4 linked regions of the Homo sapiens genome follow. The protein of the gene in region 2 interacts with the protein of the main gene of each other region in a biochemical or structural test. Each region holds a gene or a part of one and is shown on either strand. Other genes may lie near its edges.

What was found.
Region 1: of the proteins of CORO7 (region 2) and ZRANB1, one has a biochemical effect on the other in vitro, tested with the Homo sapiens proteins (one study listed by BioGRID).
Region 3: the proteins of CORO7 (region 2) and WASL form a complex in vitro, tested with the Homo sapiens proteins (one study listed by BioGRID).
Region 4: the proteins of CORO7 (region 2) and KLHL20 form a complex in vitro, tested with the Homo sapiens proteins (one study listed by BioGRID).

What each region holds. Positions count from the first base shown.
Region 1 is NC_000010.11:124,979,900-124,984,233, forward strand, and holds part of ZRANB1 (ubiquitin thioesterase ZRANB1), read left to right. Parts: intron 1-1,325; exon of another isoform or gene 1,326-1,429; intron 1,430-1,809; coding exon 1,810-1,930; intron 1,931-3,275; coding exon 3,276-3,405; intron 3,406-3,559; coding exon 3,560-3,789; intron 3,790-4,334. UniProt on the Homo sapiens protein: Ubiquitin thioesterase, which specifically hydrolyzes 'Lys-29'-linked and 'Lys-33'-linked diubiquitin. Also cleaves 'Lys-63'-linked chains, but with 40-fold less efficiency compared to 'Lys-29'-linked ones.
Region 2 is NC_000016.10:4,409,645-4,413,978, reverse strand, and holds part of CORO7 (coronin-7), read left to right. Parts: intron 1-574; coding exon 575-671; intron 672-1,548; coding exon 1,549-1,623; intron 1,624-4,334. Other genes in the region: CORO7-PAM16 protein, read left to right, coding at 575-671, 1,549-1,623. UniProt on the Homo sapiens protein: F-actin regulator involved in anterograde Golgi to endosome transport: upon ubiquitination via 'Lys-33'-linked ubiquitin chains by the BCR(KLHL20) E3 ubiquitin ligase complex, interacts with EPS15 and localizes to the trans-Golgi network, where it promotes actin polymerization, thereby facilitating post-Golgi trafficking.
Region 3 is NC_000007.14:123,693,015-123,697,348, reverse strand, and holds part of WASL (actin nucleation-promoting factor WASL), read left to right. Parts: intron 1-601; coding exon 602-770; intron 771-1,483; coding exon 1,484-1,526; intron 1,527-2,480; coding exon 2,481-2,634; intron 2,635-4,334. UniProt on the Homo sapiens protein: Regulates actin polymerization by stimulating the actin-nucleating activity of the Arp2/3 complex. Involved in various processes, such as mitosis and cytokinesis, via its role in the regulation of actin polymerization.
Region 4 is NC_000001.11:173,780,802-173,784,741, forward strand, and holds part of KLHL20 (kelch-like protein 20), read left to right. Parts: intron 1-1,322; coding exon 1,323-1,429; intron 1,430-3,940. UniProt on the Homo sapiens protein: Substrate-specific adapter of a BCR (BTB-CUL3-RBX1) E3 ubiquitin-protein ligase complex involved in interferon response and anterograde Golgi to endosome transport.

The sequences.
Region 1 (4,334 bases), on a different chromosome or scaffold from region 2:
TCATTACCAGACTGTCTGGATGATCATATCTTTGTAATACATTTTGAAATCTGGACTGTAAGTCATTTGACTTTGTATTTCTTTTTCAACATTGTTTTGACTATTTTGAGTCCTTTGGATTTCCATATACATTTTAGGATACAGCTTTATCGATTTTTGTAAAAAAGACAGCTGGGATTATGATTGGGATTGCATTGAATCTGTAGATTTAATTGGGGTGATGGTGGTATTGCCAGCTTGACAATATTGAGCCTTCCAATCCATGAACATGGAATTGAGTTTTGAATGTTAAACCAAACTGGTATTCCTGTACCATTTGGTCATATATTGCTGGATTTGGTTTGCTTGTCTGTTCTTATGGAGACTCTGGTAGTATCAGAGTTTAGGTCTTGGGGTGGTGAGGATGAACATTTTAACATGTTTAGTTTTAAAGTATATTTCATTGAACCTCCCTTCTTCAGTGGTCTTTGAAGAGTTTTGAGTGCAATCACCATTGAATTTCTGGCTGGCTTAGCTGTCTTATTTATAAAGTTATTTTAGGCACCAAGAAATTTCTAACTGCATATAACTTTCAGTATTGACAATTTCTCTGATATTTCTCCTTGAACTTTTCAAAACAATGTATTTCATCACTGTTGCCAAAATTTTCAAGACACATTTATCTTAGCGATTATAAAAGAATATACATATTTTAATTTTAAAACATTTGGAATTATGATTAAACATCCTCAGTTACGTGGAGTATGAAAAATGTTTTAAACTGAGTTAAACCTCTGGAACATTATATTTTAATTTCTTTAGGAAATATATTTACTCTCTAAGGAGCCCTTCATTAAATTACTGTAAAGTTACTTGTGACACCACCCATTTAACTTTTTTTTTCCCCCCGCAATATAGCCGGGGTCTCACTATGTTGGCCAGGTTGTTTTGAATTCTGGACCTCAGGCAATCCTCCTCCTTCAGCTTCCCAAAGTGCTAGAATTACAGGTGTGAGTTACCACACGTGTTCACGTTTAACTTTAATATGCTGAAACTTTTTAACAACAGGAACAGATTGGTCTTTTGTTTCTTTTACCTAGAATTCAGATGTATAGAAGATAAATGTGATGTTATAAACAGATTAAATGTCTGTCTGCATTTTAGAGGTCTTAGTTGGCTTGTTTTTATAAGACAGTGAACCATAATTTTGAGCATAATTATTTCTGAATTTTTATATTTGATAGACAAAGAATCGATGTGTTTTCAGTAATTCAGTGTTAAGCATAAAGAAGGAATGTTTTCTGTCATTGCAGTGGGTTTCTTTTTGGTTGCTTTTGAATTATTAGGTGATCATCAGAGAAATTATTTATGGAAAGAAATCTCAGGGAGATGATCTTGATACTATGAACACACGGAATATTTCCCACCTGTTGTTTATACAAGTGATCAAGTAGGTGGTGTACTATACATTGATAGAGAAATGTAGTGTCTTTGTATACAACATTTCAGATGACTTTTTTTTTTTTTTTTTGTAAACTAATTGTGGACAGTGGAAAATAACCAGTCTCATCATTAGCGTTTGAAGTTTGAAAATTTGGTTGTCGGTAAATCAAATTCTGACTAAAGATGTTAAAGGATGTTACAAGGTATCTGCTAGTGGAAGAGGGAGGCATTTTTCATTAGAAAAATACATTACCAACCAGACAAAATAAAATTATTAATTGTTTCACAGACTGCTTAAAGACTGCATTAAATAAAAATGATCAGAACTTTAAATGTTTTATTTATAGAAGACTATTTATTTATTTTTTTACTATCCTGCTTTTTTAGGTTTTACACACGCTGGAAAGATTGGGAATCATGGTATTCTCAGAGCTTTGGTTTACATTTTTCCTTGAGAGAAGAACAGTGGCAAGAAGACTGGGCATTTATACTCTCTCTTGCTAGTCAGGTGAGGATGCTTCAAGTCTTGTTGCTTCTATGAGAAAAGTAAGCATGTAGTCTAAACTGGTTTATTTGAGCAAACCATGTTGGGGGCAATGTGGTCAAAGAAAAGAATGCTTGACGTGGTATCATCAGTCAACTTGGGTTCTAGTGATGACTGCTGTGTATCAAATAAATAGCATCGCAAGTATAGATGAGCATCGCAAGTATAGATTAGCATCGCAAGTCCTCACTGCAGAGCAGGAAGAGTAACGTGTTTTTATATCGAATGATTAAAAACATCAAAAAGTGAAAGCTGTGCTATGACGGTTACATACAGTAGATAGTCTTGGGATTGCTCTCCGTTCCTGCAGCATAGGCTTGATGCCTATGGTACCTATCCAGGTGAGCTCTGTTCTGTCTCTGGGGACACTTAAGATTACTGGTGTAGGTACTTGCATTGCTGTTGCTGATCTGTCAGGCCCTGAGGAACCAGTTGTCAATCTTCATAATGCTCCCTGTGGTGAGGCAATACCTGTGTCATGTAGGCAAAGGAAAAGGGTAGTTTAGCTTACTCTGAACTAATTACCATCAATAGGAATGATTTCTGATTAATGTGGGAATGAAGTTTTGCAAGTTTGCTAACGTCTTTTTATTAATGAAGGCTGCTTGTGACACAGAACTGTGTAGGGTTGTCCCTTAGACTCTTGGTTTCATGCTTTATTTTGTGAAGCACTTCAGTATACCAAACTGTAAAGTACAAATATATATACAACTACTCCTTTTTTTTTGCAGAAAGCACCATGGTTCATTTGAACTTAGAGAAGGAGGTACCCGATCTTTGGGCAATTTGGGCAGGATTCATAGTGGTTGATTTACATGAGACATGTATCTCACACCATGCATTGTAGCTCGATGATGGACCCATTTAATATTAGTATTCACGAGTTAGTTGATACTGCCATTTACATTTGCATGAAACAGGCTCACTTATTTATTTCAGGAGGACTTTGTTGTAGGTAGTGCTTTCACAGTAACTTAACGAGAATGTGATAATAAAGCATCCTTAGTTATCTGAATCTCTGGTTCCTGAGGTTGGAGAGTTAGTAGTGAGGGATATTTCAAAGTATGTATGCACATCTGTATAATTTGTGAGTTTGGATGGTAAATGATATTTGCATGTAGCCTTTATAGATTTCTTTTACAGTTTTACTGGATTTATTATTTGAGGAATCAAATGCTGCTTTGACAATCTTTTCTTTCTTAAAAACCAACTGCGATAGTATACTGAAGGGGAGGTAGTATTGTTTTTTACACATCAGTTTTCCAGGAGTGGTAATAAATGTTTTAAGTTTTTGTTTTGTTTCGTACAGCCTGGAGCAAGCTTGGAGCAGACGCACATTTTTGTACTGGCACATATTCTTAGACGACCAATTATAGTTTATGGAGTAAAATATTACAAGAGTTTCCGGGGAGAAACTTTAGGATATACTCGGTTTCAAGGTAAGCCATTATTCAGGAACGTTTTACAAGTTTCTTTGAACGGAATGGCTCAGATGTCAGGAAGGAGCAGTGGACAGGGGAATGTGAACAAGGGCAGTGAGGGAGTGGCTCTTTCTTCCTGTGACTGTTGGGATTTTCTTCCCTCTCTTTCCAGGTGTTTATCTGCCTTTGTTGTGGGAACAGAGTTTTTGTTGGAAAAGTCCGATTGCTCTGGGTTATACGAGGGGCCACTTCTCTGCTTTGGTTGCCATGGAAAATGATGGCTATGGCAACCGAGGTGCTGGTGCTAATCTCAATACCGATGATGATGTCACCATCACATTTTTGCCTCTGGTTGACAGTGAAAGGAAGCTACTCCATGTGCACTTCCTTTCTGCTCAGGAGGTAAGCAGTTTCTCCTATGAACTATTTCTAGTAGTGACCTTGTACCAGAAACAGCCTGAAGTGCCTTTCAGGTGTGGTTTTATCTGCACTATCACTTAATTTCTGAATGTGATGGTAGTAATTGCTGAAGGTACTAGCTATACTTTGAAATTTACCTTTTCAAAACTGCTGTATGGGGACACATCAAGGAACTTAAGGTGGTGATGGGTTTTAAGAAGAAAAAGTAAAGATGAGGTTTGTGATTTAAATATGGCATTTTAGGGAATGAGAAGTGAGTTTTTATCTGAAAGCAGAGTTCCAAGAATTGCAAGGCCAGTGTGGTTTAAGAGGGGAAGCAACAGGGAAAGAGAGAGGGTAGGCGGCAGGGGGAGGGAGGAAGGGAGAAGAGGTCAGAGAGGATAGGGATGGGGGGGAGTTCATTGAAGGCTTTTTAAAGCTTTGGGTTTTACTCTGGATAACGTGGTAAACCAATGGCCAGTTTACCCAGAAGAGGAACATTTGGGGTCTGGTGCATGGCAGGAGCAGGAACACCAGGTATTGTAGAT
Region 2 (4,334 bases):
CTGACCTCAGGATGATCTGTCTGCCTCAGCCTCCCAAAGTGCTGGGATTACAGGCATGAACCACCGCACCTGGCCCACATTTTACATTTCCTAAGGGACTTCGTGAGTGGGGACAGAGTTTGATTTGAAGTAACACAACACGGCTGGGGGCGGAGGCTCATGCCTGTAATCCCAGCACTTTGGGAGACCAAGGCAGGCAGATCACTTGAGGCCAGGAGTTCGAGACCAGCCTGGCCAACATGGTGAAACCCCATCTCTACTAACAATACAAAAATTAGCTGGGCTTGGTGTTGGGCGCCTGTAATCCCAGCTACTCAGGAGGCTGAGGCAGGAGGATCACTTGAACCCAAGAGGCAGAGATTGCAGTGATCCAAGATCGCGCCACTGCACTCTAGCCTGGGTGACAGAGTGAGACCCTGTCTCAAAAAGAAAAAAAAAGTAAATAAAAGAATGCATCTCGAATGGTGCAGCTGTGAGCTAGAGTTCCCCAGATTATGCCCCACCTCTTGCTTTAGGCATGCATGGAGGTGGAACCCTGGCTCTCACCACATACTTCTTTACTCTTGATTTTCAGTCCTGGATCAGTGACATTCGAGCAGGAACCGCCCCTTCATGCAGGAACCACATCAAATCAAGCTGCAGCTTGATCGCCTTCAACTCCGACCGTCCTGGTAGGGAATGGCCATGAGTGTGGATATTTGCTCACATATTCGGTCATCGTCACCATAGATGGGGTGGGGAGCAGGGGCAGGCTTGGTGTATTTGGAGACTTGGAACGGAACTGCTTTGGGGGGCTCAGAGGTGAGCCCCATGCCAGACCTTAGACCCCCACAAACTGGTCCAGGCGCAGTAATCTGATTGCTTTTGATTAGGACATATGTGTGTACAAACCACAGGCAAGAGCATGGCCAGGAGGGCTGGGAGGGGACTGACGCTTGTATTTCCAGCTGTCCCTCTGTGCTCCCTGCTCCTCATCTTTGGGCCCTGGATGGCTGGGGACAGTAGGAACAGAAAGGCTTGAAAAGCCCGTGTGTTGGTTGGCACTCTCTTGATTGCTAGTGGTAACTCAGACCCTCAAGCTGGCTTAAGCAAAAAATGGATAATGTTTCAGCCTAACTAAGAGATCAGGGGCTTCAGGCAGATCGGTGCCCAAAGGCTCACATGTACTGTCGGCCCTGACCTCTCTGGGTCTCTCAGCTCTGCCACCTTGGGTGTTGGCTTCTTTCTCAAGTAAAAGTGCGAAAAGTGGCTGACGGTAGCTGCAAGCCCCATACGAAAGCCCCACGCCCCTTTCGTATGACCCGTGTTAAAAAGAGAGGACCTCTCGCCTAATGTCTTCTGTATCCATCTGAGGCATGGATGGCTCATGCATGGGGCCAGAACCTACCCACAGGCCATTGCTACGTGCAGAGGATATGATCTTGTGATTGGTAGAGGCTCTGGGAAGGTCCGAGGCTGAGCTGCTGGATTTCATCTCTGGGATCCCTGGGCAAGGAGGTGGGTGGCCCTGTGGGGCCTGAAGTCAGAGTCCCCGTGTTTGTTTAACAGGTGTACTGGGCATTGTGCCTCTGCAAGGCCAAGGAGAGGACAAGCGACGCGTGGCCCACCTGGGCTGCCATTCAGGTGAGTGGGTGTCTGACTAGTGGGTGAAGCCTGAAACTTGCACCTCCCTCTCCAGGGCCAGAAATTCATCCTCACCTGGTCCCACTGCCGCATGGCTTGCCAGGTCCCTCCTGTCGCCCTGTCTGTGCACTCTCTGAGAGACAGTGGGGCTCAGAAGGCTTCCTCCTGGTGTAGAATTCCGGCCTGGGCAGTGAGGAGGGAAGCTGTGTGCTCCGGTTGTGAGCTGGATGGAGCGGGGTGTGCAGTGGCCGCCCCAGGCTCCAGGCTGATGCTGGCTCCCTGTCCCTGCCGAGGACTCCACGTTGGATGGCTCTGAGCCCTCCGTCTTCTGCTGGAGTCCCCTCTCCACCAGGCATCCTCCCCAGCCCAGCCGCTCGGGGCCCTCCAAGGAGGTCGCTGTGTTGGGCTGCAGGGGTGGAGATGGGCCCTCACAAAGAGACCTTTTGTGTGCCGCAGCTGCTTCTGGGGGCGTCCAGCAGCCTGCCTGGCAGGCTGTCCGCCTCGAGGGAACAGTTTGCTCGCCTCAGATGGAGGCAGAGCAGCCCAGCTGGCCTCGCCTCTCACTGTCCAGCTGCAGCGGCCGCGGGCCCAGTCTCTCTGGCCTGCATTTCTGGCTGCTTGTTTGGAGGCCTTCGGGTGAGGGAAGGCAGTTGATGCCTGGTCCTCAGGCTGGGTGTGCAGGGTCGTGGAGGGGTTCTGATATGATAATGATGGTGGTTAATAACAATAGTAAAGATTTATGGAGATTGCTCTCTGTACTAAGTACGTTAGCTGAGTTTTCTCATCTAAACTTTTTTAAAAAATTTTTAAAAAGTATATAGAGACGAGGTCTTGCTATATTGCCCGGGCTGGTCTCAAACTTCTGGGCTCAAGCAATCCTCCCAAGTCAACCTCCCAAAGTACTGGCATTACAGGTGTGATCCACCAGGCCCAGCCAACGTTACCTGTTTTTTGTTTGTTTTTGTGACAGGGTCTTGCTCTGTCACTCAGGCTGGAGTGCAGTGGCATAATCATGGCTCACTGTAGCCTTGACCTCCTGGGCTCAAGCAATTCTTCCACCTCAGCCTCCCAAGTTGTCAGGACCACAGGTTTATGCCACCACCCCTCCAGCTAATTTTTAAAAATTTTTTGTAAAATGGGGTCTTGTTATGTTGCCCAGCCTGGTCTTGAACTCCTGGCCTCGAGCTATCCTCCCGCCTTGGCCTCCCAAAGTTTTGGGGCCCCGTCAGATTACCTGTTTTAAGTAAAGAGCCTGATGATTCTTATTAAAGTGACCGAGTCATGTGCACTGCCATCCAGTTTTGGAACGTTTCCATCATCCCCAAAAGATCCCGCATGCCCCTTTGCAGTTAATCCATTTCCACCTCCAATACCACAGCCTCAGGCAACAGCTGATCTGCTTCCTGCCTCTGTGGCAGAGGTCTGCAAACTACTGTCACGGCCAGATCCAGCTGGCTGCCTGTTTTTGTAAATAGTTTTATTGGAACGCTGCCACGCCCATTCATTGATGTATAGTCTGTGGTTGCTTTCTTGCAACAACTGCAGAGTTGAGTTGTGACCGAGACTGTTGAGCCCTGAAATCCTAGAATATTTACCGCCTTGCCCTTCGCAGGAGACGTTTACTGGCCTCTCCTCTATAGAGGGGCCTCTTTTGCGCATCTCACGCAAATGGAATCGCACAATACACGGTCTTTGGAATCTGGCATCTTTCACGTAGCATGTTGTTTTAGAGATACATGTGTGTGGCAGCTTGTATAACAAGTCTGTTCTCATCTAATCTCAGATCTCTTTGAAGTAGGTTTTAAAACAACCCATTTTATAGCTATGAAAACTGAGACTCCTGCAAGGTTAGGAACTTACCCATTGTTATGGCAGGGCCAGAATCAGAACCCAGGTCTATAGGAGCCTGTGTTTGGGTTTGTCTTTTTAGAGACAGGGTCTCTGTCTCTGTCATCCAGGCTGGAGTGTGGTGGTGCAATCATAGTTCACTGCAGTCTTGAACTCCTGGGCTCAAGGGATCGTCTATCCTCAGCCTCCCTAGTAGCTGGGACTATAGGCACACACCACCATGCCCAGCTGATTTTTTTATGTTTTGTGGAGATGGGGTTTTGCTGTGTTGCCCAGGCTGGTCCTGAACTCCTAGCCTCAAGTGATCTTCCCACCTTGGCCTCCCAAAGTGCTGAGATTATAGGCATGAGCCAATGTACCTGGCTTCATGTTTGACTTTTTGATGCTTTTTATCTATGAGGGAGCTAGCCCAAGTTGGTGATGCTTGCAAGGTGGTGAGCCCTCTGCTACTAGGGCTCTTCAAGTAGAAGCTGGACCAGGGTCCTGTAGGCAAGTCCATAGCCTCACTGTGGCTGCAACTGTTCAGAGCCTTGCCTGCATGAGCAGCCCTGCCGGGAAACTGCTCATGGGAAGGTGAGCTCCAGCACCCCTGGAACCTGCCCTAGAGGCACCAGGTGCCCTTCTGCCTCAGAGGTGCCGGTGTCGGGAGAAATGGCCAGGTGGGGCTCTGGCTGTTGCCCTGCCTTCAGAGGCCCCTTCAGCCTCTCAGCTCAGGGCCACTCTTGCCCTTCCGCCCAGCAGCCAGGGGAGCAGAGGGTGAGCAACTTCTGGGTGCGTTTCTGATGTCCAGGCTGTGGGGCGGCAGCTGGGGCCCGCTCCAGTGGGAAAAGGCAGCAGCATGTCATGCTGAGCAGCACAGGTTC
Region 3 (4,334 bases), on a different chromosome or scaffold from region 2:
AGTGCTTTAAGAATTTTTGTGTTTTAAATTTTTAAATTCTATACTTCTGATAGTCAAGGTGTATGCGTACTGGTGGGGAAAATATCATTTGACTTAAGGATGCCAGTTCTGGAAAAAATGGTAGTAATAATTTTAAGTACCCTTTTTCTTCTTGACTAATAAAGTTGAAACAAAGAGTTAAGGCTATATTTCTTTGTTAAATTTAAAACAAAAATAGATACTTTACTTTCTTTATCCTTGTTACAAGATATGTTTCACTTTACTGTTGAGCAATGTGTTGGATATGAGGCTATTATAATCAAAATTTAAGAGATTAGACTAATTATATTTAAATTCTAGCTGGAAGTTCATATTCTTTATGAAATTTAATGGCATAAAAATGTAAGTTTGCTTTGAAATAGTGCATCTACACTCATTTCAAGAACTTAACAGGTTTTAGAAATTTAGGCAGCACTTTATGAAAAAAATGTAGAAGTTTAAAATATAAATAATTTATAATGAAGTGATCCTATTTCAGAAAAAGTATTTAAATTGTAAATTATGATTGTATATCAGTTATCTTAAATTATATCCCTTTTATATAATTTGGTTTTATTTGCAGGTCCTAATCTACCCATGGCTACAGTTGATATAAAAAATCCAGAAATCACAACAAATAGATTTTATGGTCCACAAGTCAACAACATCTCCCATACCAAAGAAAAGAAGAAGGGAAAAGCTAAAAAGAAGAGATTAACCAAGGCAGATATAGGAACACCAAGCAATTTCCAGTAAGACAGTTCTTTTGTTGTTCTTATCTTCACTTTTGATTTATTCATTGCTGTTCTTGATTTTTAACTTGTTAGAAAATTTTCTTCTCTTTTCGGGAGGGTGTGTACATTCATCACTTGGATACCGTTTTAACTATGTACTTTATTGGAGTTTTTTTTTTTTTTTAAGGCAGCTGCTCAATAGATGTTCTTGGAATCTTATGGTTTATTTACTTTTTCAACTATGAGAAAAGAAAAATTAGATAAAGTTGTTTCTTCAACTAATTATTGAACATAAAAATGATTTCTCACTTTGCTCTAAAAATAGCATTTAGAAATTGTTTACAGATACTGCCTAGGGGCAGTAAAAACCTTTGGTATTTAACATATTTCAAGCATTTTCATATGCATTATTTTATTAGCTCATTATGAAACCCTTATCCCGTCATATATATAATGCTTGGACTCTTATGCTAATTTGACAATTAAGGAAATAGATGCTCAGAGAGATTGTACAAAAATTTTAAGTTTCAGTTAGTAGCAGAGTCAGGGCTAGAATCCTGTTCTTCTGACTCCTTGTACATAGTTTTTATCACAATATGGTTATGTCTGTGAGAACTGTTAGTTCAGACCAAAAATTCAAAGCCAAATGTAGATTGGGTTTCATATATATTGTGTTTATAATGCCCTTTATGCATTTTGTTTTTCTATTTTTTTTCTATTTTCTACTTCAGGCACATTGGACATGTTGGTTGGGATCCAAATACAGGCTTTGATGTAAGTATGTTTTCAAATCATATACGTTATAACTGTATGTGGAAATGTGTTGGCCTATTTTAGATTTTTTTAAATTCATTTTTGTGGTTTCTAGTATCTGTTTGAATGTGCTTGTGTTTTATGTATGTATACAACTGAGGTTTAAAACCATATTATTGTTCTGTCATTCATGGCTAAGTCTCTAAAGACTTAGACTAAGGTTTTGTGTACCTTGGCTTTATACACTGTATAAATAAAATCCTTGTGCTTTGAAAGCCAAGAGAAGAAAATCATTTCTGCCAAGTGATAATTTCAGGGGAGTGTATACCAAATTACTAGAAAGTAGTATAATCAAATTCTGAATATTCAGTTGTTGAATTCTCCAGATCTTTTCATTCTCCTGTTCTTTTTGGCAGTTTTGCCGTTGTTTTATAGCACTGTGAAACTGCTGGCAAAAATTAATCAGCGTTTGGATGCATTATTTTAAAGAGATATTATTTGTGATTGGAGTAAAAAATATTTTTAGTTATTTTTGTTATAGCTACAATGTTAACTCAACAAACATACTGAGCACCTCTTGTGCTGGGCATTGTGCAAGGTGCTTGGGATTACAGGAAGATCCTTGCTCTCAGATTTTCAAATTAATTTACTTTTTTTGTGTTTATTCCTGATTTTTACATACTTACTTAGGACAAGGTAGAATAAATGAGCATTGGAGATGTCTGAATCATGAATAGGCTAATAGAAATCTAAATGAGATGCCCTCTTTTTGAAGGCAGGGAACAAAAAAGAAGAATAAAATAGGGAATATATCTGTTCAGTTTTTTTTAATAAAATATTTTAGTTAGCACATAAGTAATATAAGCATGTTAAAAGTTTAGGCAAAATAATTTCAGAAGGACACAGATGAGACTTAAAATTATGTTTTTTAAATTGGGATATATTTTTATAGTTAGCAGTTACTTTCTTTTGTAGCTGAATAATTTGGATCCAGAATTGAAGAATCTTTTCGATATGTGTGGAATCTCAGAGGCACAACTTAAAGACAGAGAAACATCAAAAGTTATATATGACTTTATTGAAAAAACAGGAGGTGTTGAAGCTGTTAAAAATGAACTGCGGAGGCAAGGTAACTTTTATCTCTATTCAGCGTTCTGTTTTGTTTTAATCTTTTGAGGTCAGTTTCATGGAAACCAGTTAACATTCATACATGTGAACCCTTCCTTGAGCAGAATGTTGAAGTCTATGGACAACTAATGTGGCCCATCACACTGTGTCTTAACATTATTTCATTATAACTAAAAAAACTTTACAAGGTTTTGTTTATTCTTTATTCATAAAAATCCATACAAAATCTTCCCAGCTATTCTATTTTAAAGTAAAAACTTATAGTTGCCTAAATGTTATACTTAAGGAATCCTATAAACCACCAGATTTTATTGTAATTCAGAAGTAATAATTTAAATATAATCACTTTCTAATTAGTAATATACGCATTTCCAGAATATAAATAATGTAAACTTTCTATTTTGAAATACAAATCCTTTTTCTTGGATAAAGTATGAAATTTTCTTTTGTACCTGAGAGCACAATTTATAACCTTTTAAGATTTGATATTTATTTTAAAGGACCTCGTATTTCAGTTTTGTCTTAATAATTATTGCAGTAAAATGCAGATAAAATACTCTAAATTTTCCAATTAACAGTCATCTCTTTGCTACCTTATTAGGACTGCTTTCTTTTCTTCTTCCTAGCTTTTGCATACTCATAATAGTGTAGTTAAGCAAAAGCTCCGGTTAAAACATTCTTCTGAAGAACTTAACTGTCATTTTAAATTAGGCATTCAGTTTACTTATGTCTTTTTCATTGCCAGTGTTCATTTAAACTTTGATTGATAGATTGACTTATATAGTTCATAAACATTATTATGCCAGTACTAGTCTCAGGATATTTAGATGTAAAGGATTCTCATGCCTCAGCCACCCAAGTAGCTGAGATTACAGGCATGCACCACTACACCCTGCTAATTTTTATATTTTTAATAGAAACGGGGTTTTTCCATGTTAGCCAGGTTGGTCTCAAACTCTTGGCCTCAAGTGATCCTCCCGCTTTGGCCTCCCAAAGTGCTGGGATTACAGGCATGAGCCACCATGCTCAGCCAAGTTTATTTTTCTGTTATATCTTACATTTTCACTGATGTGGAATAAGAATGCTAATATCATGACTACTGGAATAATAGTAATTTTTGTTAATAACTTTAATTTTGCAGTGTATGGAAATTCTCAGTTAATTTGTTAATAACCAGTTCATGTCTCTGGAATAAGTAATTGAGCATTTCAACAAAGCAACCAGCCTCCTATAATGCCATTACTAGAATTGCAGACAATTTTTAGAGATACAGACATTATGCTATAAAAGTACAAATGTAAATTAAATGACAAAGGCTTACATTTTGAAAGGAAAGCATTATATTTGGGCTTTAGCGCAGATTAATGTGAATGAATTCTATTAAGCTATGCTACACTATAATTCTGAATGTGAATTGATTTTACTTAAAAAAATAAGTGTACTTGATTCTTTTTTAAAGAGGGAAGGTATTTATTTTTATTAAAATGTAAACTAATGCTAATTAACAAAATGTTTAATTTCATTGGTATATTTTGTTATTATTTTGTAAAGTAGAAAATGTTTATTCCCCTTACTTTCAGAACTGGTACTAATTCCAAAAAAATAAACTATTCTGTTTTAGCTCATATTTTTTTAAGAACCAATAAGAAAGTGATCTTTAGGCTGACAATTCTCAAAAAAAATTGTGAGATATCATCTGTG
Region 4 (3,940 bases), on a different chromosome or scaffold from region 2:
TCACTGCAACCTCCACCTCCCGGGCTCAAGTGATTCTCCTGCCTCAGCCTCCCGAGTAGCTAGGACTACAGGTGCGTGCCACCATGCCCAGCTGTTTTTTTGTATTTTTAATAGAGATGGGGTTTCACTATGGTGATCTGTGATCCTGCCACTGCACTGCAGCCTGAGTGACAGAGCGAGACCCTGTGAGTGAGAGAGAGAGAGGGAAAGAGGGAGAGGGAGAGAGAGAGAGGAGGGAGGAGGGAGGGAGGTGGGGGAGGGGAGGGGAGAAGAAAACACCAGCCAGGGAACATGTGCAAAAGTGTGGAGGTGTGAAAAATGTATGTTATCTTCAGGGACTAGCAGTTAATCCAGTTTTACTGCAGCAATAGGATTCATTAGTTAGGAGTAAAGGGAAACTATAAGAGGTGAGGCTTAAATAGTGGGCTAAGATAGATTTCTGGAGGGCCTGAGTAACATAATAAGGACTTTAAAACTTACCCTTAAATAGTAGGGAGGCTTAGAAAGTTGTTTTGGTTTTAGGAGATTTTTTTGAGAGGGTCCCACTCTGCTGCCCAGGCTGGAGTGCAGTGTACACAATCTCAGCTCACTGCAACCTCGACCTTTCAGGCTCAAGCAGTCCTCCTGCCTCAGCCTTCCAAGTAGCCGGGACTACAGGTATGCCCCACCACACCCAGCTAATTTTTGTATTTTTTGTAAAGACAGGGTCTCACTGTGTTGCCCAGGCCTGTCTCGAACTCCTGGGCTCAAGCGATCCACCGACCTCAGCCTCCCAAAGTGAGAAAGTTTTTAGAGGAAAGTGACAATATGATTAGATTTATATTTTTCTGTTTTACTTTATTTTTGTAGAGATAGGGGTCTCACTGTGTTGCCCAAGCTGGTCTTGAACTCCAGGCTTCAAGTGATGCTCCCACCTGGGCCTTCCCAAAGTGCTGGGATTACAGGCATGAGGTACCATGCCTGGCCTAGATTTGTATTTTTAAAAGAGAATTTTACTAGCAATTAGAAAGATTAGAGCAGGCAAATACCAGAGGAAGTGAGAGCAGTTTGGAGGTTGTTTGCTCACTTCTAGTGAACAGTTTTTCTAAAATTTAAGAAATACATGTTTTGGATTCTGTGTGAATATTCTAATTGAATATATAATTTTATAGTTCCCATAATTTGATAGACTTTTGTTGTTACATTTTCCCTGTGTTTCAGTAAACCAGAATGTAAGGCCATAAAGAATTATCTTTTGTAAATAGATTTATCTAGAAACCAGTCTATAATTTCCTTACGATTGTCTAGTTTCTTCAGCAGCTTACTGTATTTTGGTTTTGTAGGTTGGCCTGGCAGTGGTCAATGGACAGCTCATGGCAGTAGGAGGTTTTGATGGCACAACATACTTGAAGACCATAGAAGTTTTTGATCCTGATGCCAATACATGGAGGTAACTTTTAAGCTGTGTAGCAAATCACCTCACTACTGATTTGGAAATCATGGGCTTGAAATAGCCTATGACCATCAGAACTGGGATGGTCAGTACATTGGAGTACTTTGAAGAGGGCTGAAGTTACACATATTTATGGCTCATTTTGACTTGATTGCTCTAAAGTGGCTGATATATTACAAAATTCTCCTTTTCAGTAACTGTCCAGTTTTATAATTAGAGATGGGTAAAATAGGGAAAAAAAATCTTCCTAGTCCCATCATGTTCAGCTGAGGAAACAAAAGCACCGAGAAATAAAATGACCTGCCTAAGTGAGTTAGTGACAGAGTTAGAATTAGAACCTAGGTCTTTGGCTCCAAATCTGTCCATGCCATTTTTTGGTGTTCTTGTGGGAAACCTATGCCTAGGAGAAACAAATTGCAATTACTTTTGAAAAATTAATATTTGAAAAATAATATTTCATTTTTAAAGCCATTTTAACTTTTAGGGAGGAGGCTACATCTTATTTAAGAGAGCTTAACTTAAACTTCATTTCTAGGTTTAATTTTACTTTGCTTTTAAATCCTCAATTGTCTAATAAAGCTTTCTTAAGTAGTTAAGTAGTTTTTATAATTTCACATAAATTAGGTGACTTTTGCATTTATTTTAAATATTCAAGAACCTTTACAAACTTAGCAAAATTCTCTTAAACCTTTAAACTTAAAATAATTAAGTCTAAATCTTTACTCAATCATATTTTATACTTGAATCACAAGAGTAATCTTATAGATGCCCTAAAAAGCCAAATTCTCTTAAACACTACAGGAACTTAAAATGCAAAACACATAGTTTATTCTCAAACTTTAAAAATAACAATACTATGGGTTTGATGTATGGCATATCTGTACTTAATTCTAAATACTAGTCTTCTAAGAAAACAGTTTTGCCTTCCAAGCAATTTGGGGTTTCCTTCTCAATAAAATGGGCTTACTTGCCTAAGCAAGTTTAGGGTTACCATCTCAGTGGTTAAGGTTGCACATCAACCAGAAATATCAGGCTGGACATGTGAGCTGAGGCAGCAGACATTCTGGGAAATTTTTCTTATGACCATGAAGGATAAGCTGAGCTCTGTTTTATTGTTACTATTCTAAAAGAGGCAGTCTTGTAGTCCTTTCTTACTGTATTCTAATAGTCTATCTCTAGGAAAGCCACAACTCTCACAGAGATTTAAGTGACATGCTTTGGATCCTACATATGTCTCACAGCTCCATATGACTCAGTGGTCACAAAACTAAAGTCAGGCTAATAACAGCGTGTACGTTTTGCTCCTACATCACATTTTTACAGTCCTGTTCATTAAGTAAAGATTTATTGATGGCCAGGCACGGTGGCTCATGCCTGTAATCTCAGCACTTTGGGAGACCAAGGTGGGCGGATCACCTGAGGTCAGGAGTTCGAGACCAGCCTGGCCAACATGATGAAACCTCGTCTCTACTAAAAATACAAAAACTAGCCAGGCATTGGGGTGGGCACCTGTAATCCCAGCTACTTGGGAGGCTGAGGCAGGAGAATCACTTGAACCTGGGGTCAGAGGTTGCAGTGAGCAGAGATTGGGCCATTGCACTGCAGCCTGGGTGACAGAGCAAGACTCCGTCTCAAAAAAAAAAAAAGATTTACTAAGTGCTCCGAGCCCTGGGGATACAAAACTGAACAACAACAACAAAAATTCCTGCCAAGCGCACGCCTGTAATCCCAGCTACTAGGGAGGCTGAGGCATGAGAATCTCTTGAACCCAGAAGGTGGAGGTTGCAGTGAGCCGAGATCACACCACTGCACTCTAGCCTGAGTGGAAGAGCAAGACTCCGTCTCAAAACAAAACAAAACAACAAAAAAGTTCCTTGCCCTGCTGGAGCTAACCAATTGTATTGAGGGAGACAAACAGTACCATACCAGTAGATGGAAGTGCTGTGGCAAATATCAAAGCAGGGGAGGGGGCTAGGGAGTACAGGGAGGGGAATCTGTTTTTAAAGGTGTTCAGGGAAGGCCTCATTGGAAAGGTAGCATTTTAGCAAAACCTAAATACGGTAAAGGATAGGTAATGGCAGCTTTGGGCCTCTCACTGGCAGGATATTTTCTTCCATATACAGCTTTCTATTTTTACTAGGAATTTTGATTAAGCATAATTTCTGAAGACAGCCAAATTTACTGTCACTTAATCACTATAATCTTATCTGAGGACTTGTTTCTTAGTAACTGTCACTAAATAGAATTAGTAATAGATGACAAAGTAATAGTCATGAAATTATTGAGGATCATCTGTTGAAAGATTAATAACTAAATATTTGCAGTTACATATCCAAGACTTAAAAACCAACTCTACCTCATAGCTGATAAGGGTCTAGTATTCTTCTCCATGGAAAGTCCTTAATTTTGAAGATGATCTTGTCACAAACTAGATGCTGACTTTACTCAAATCTGGTTTTGTTCTATAAAGGACTTGAAGAGGCTTACAGAGTACATATAAGACAAAGG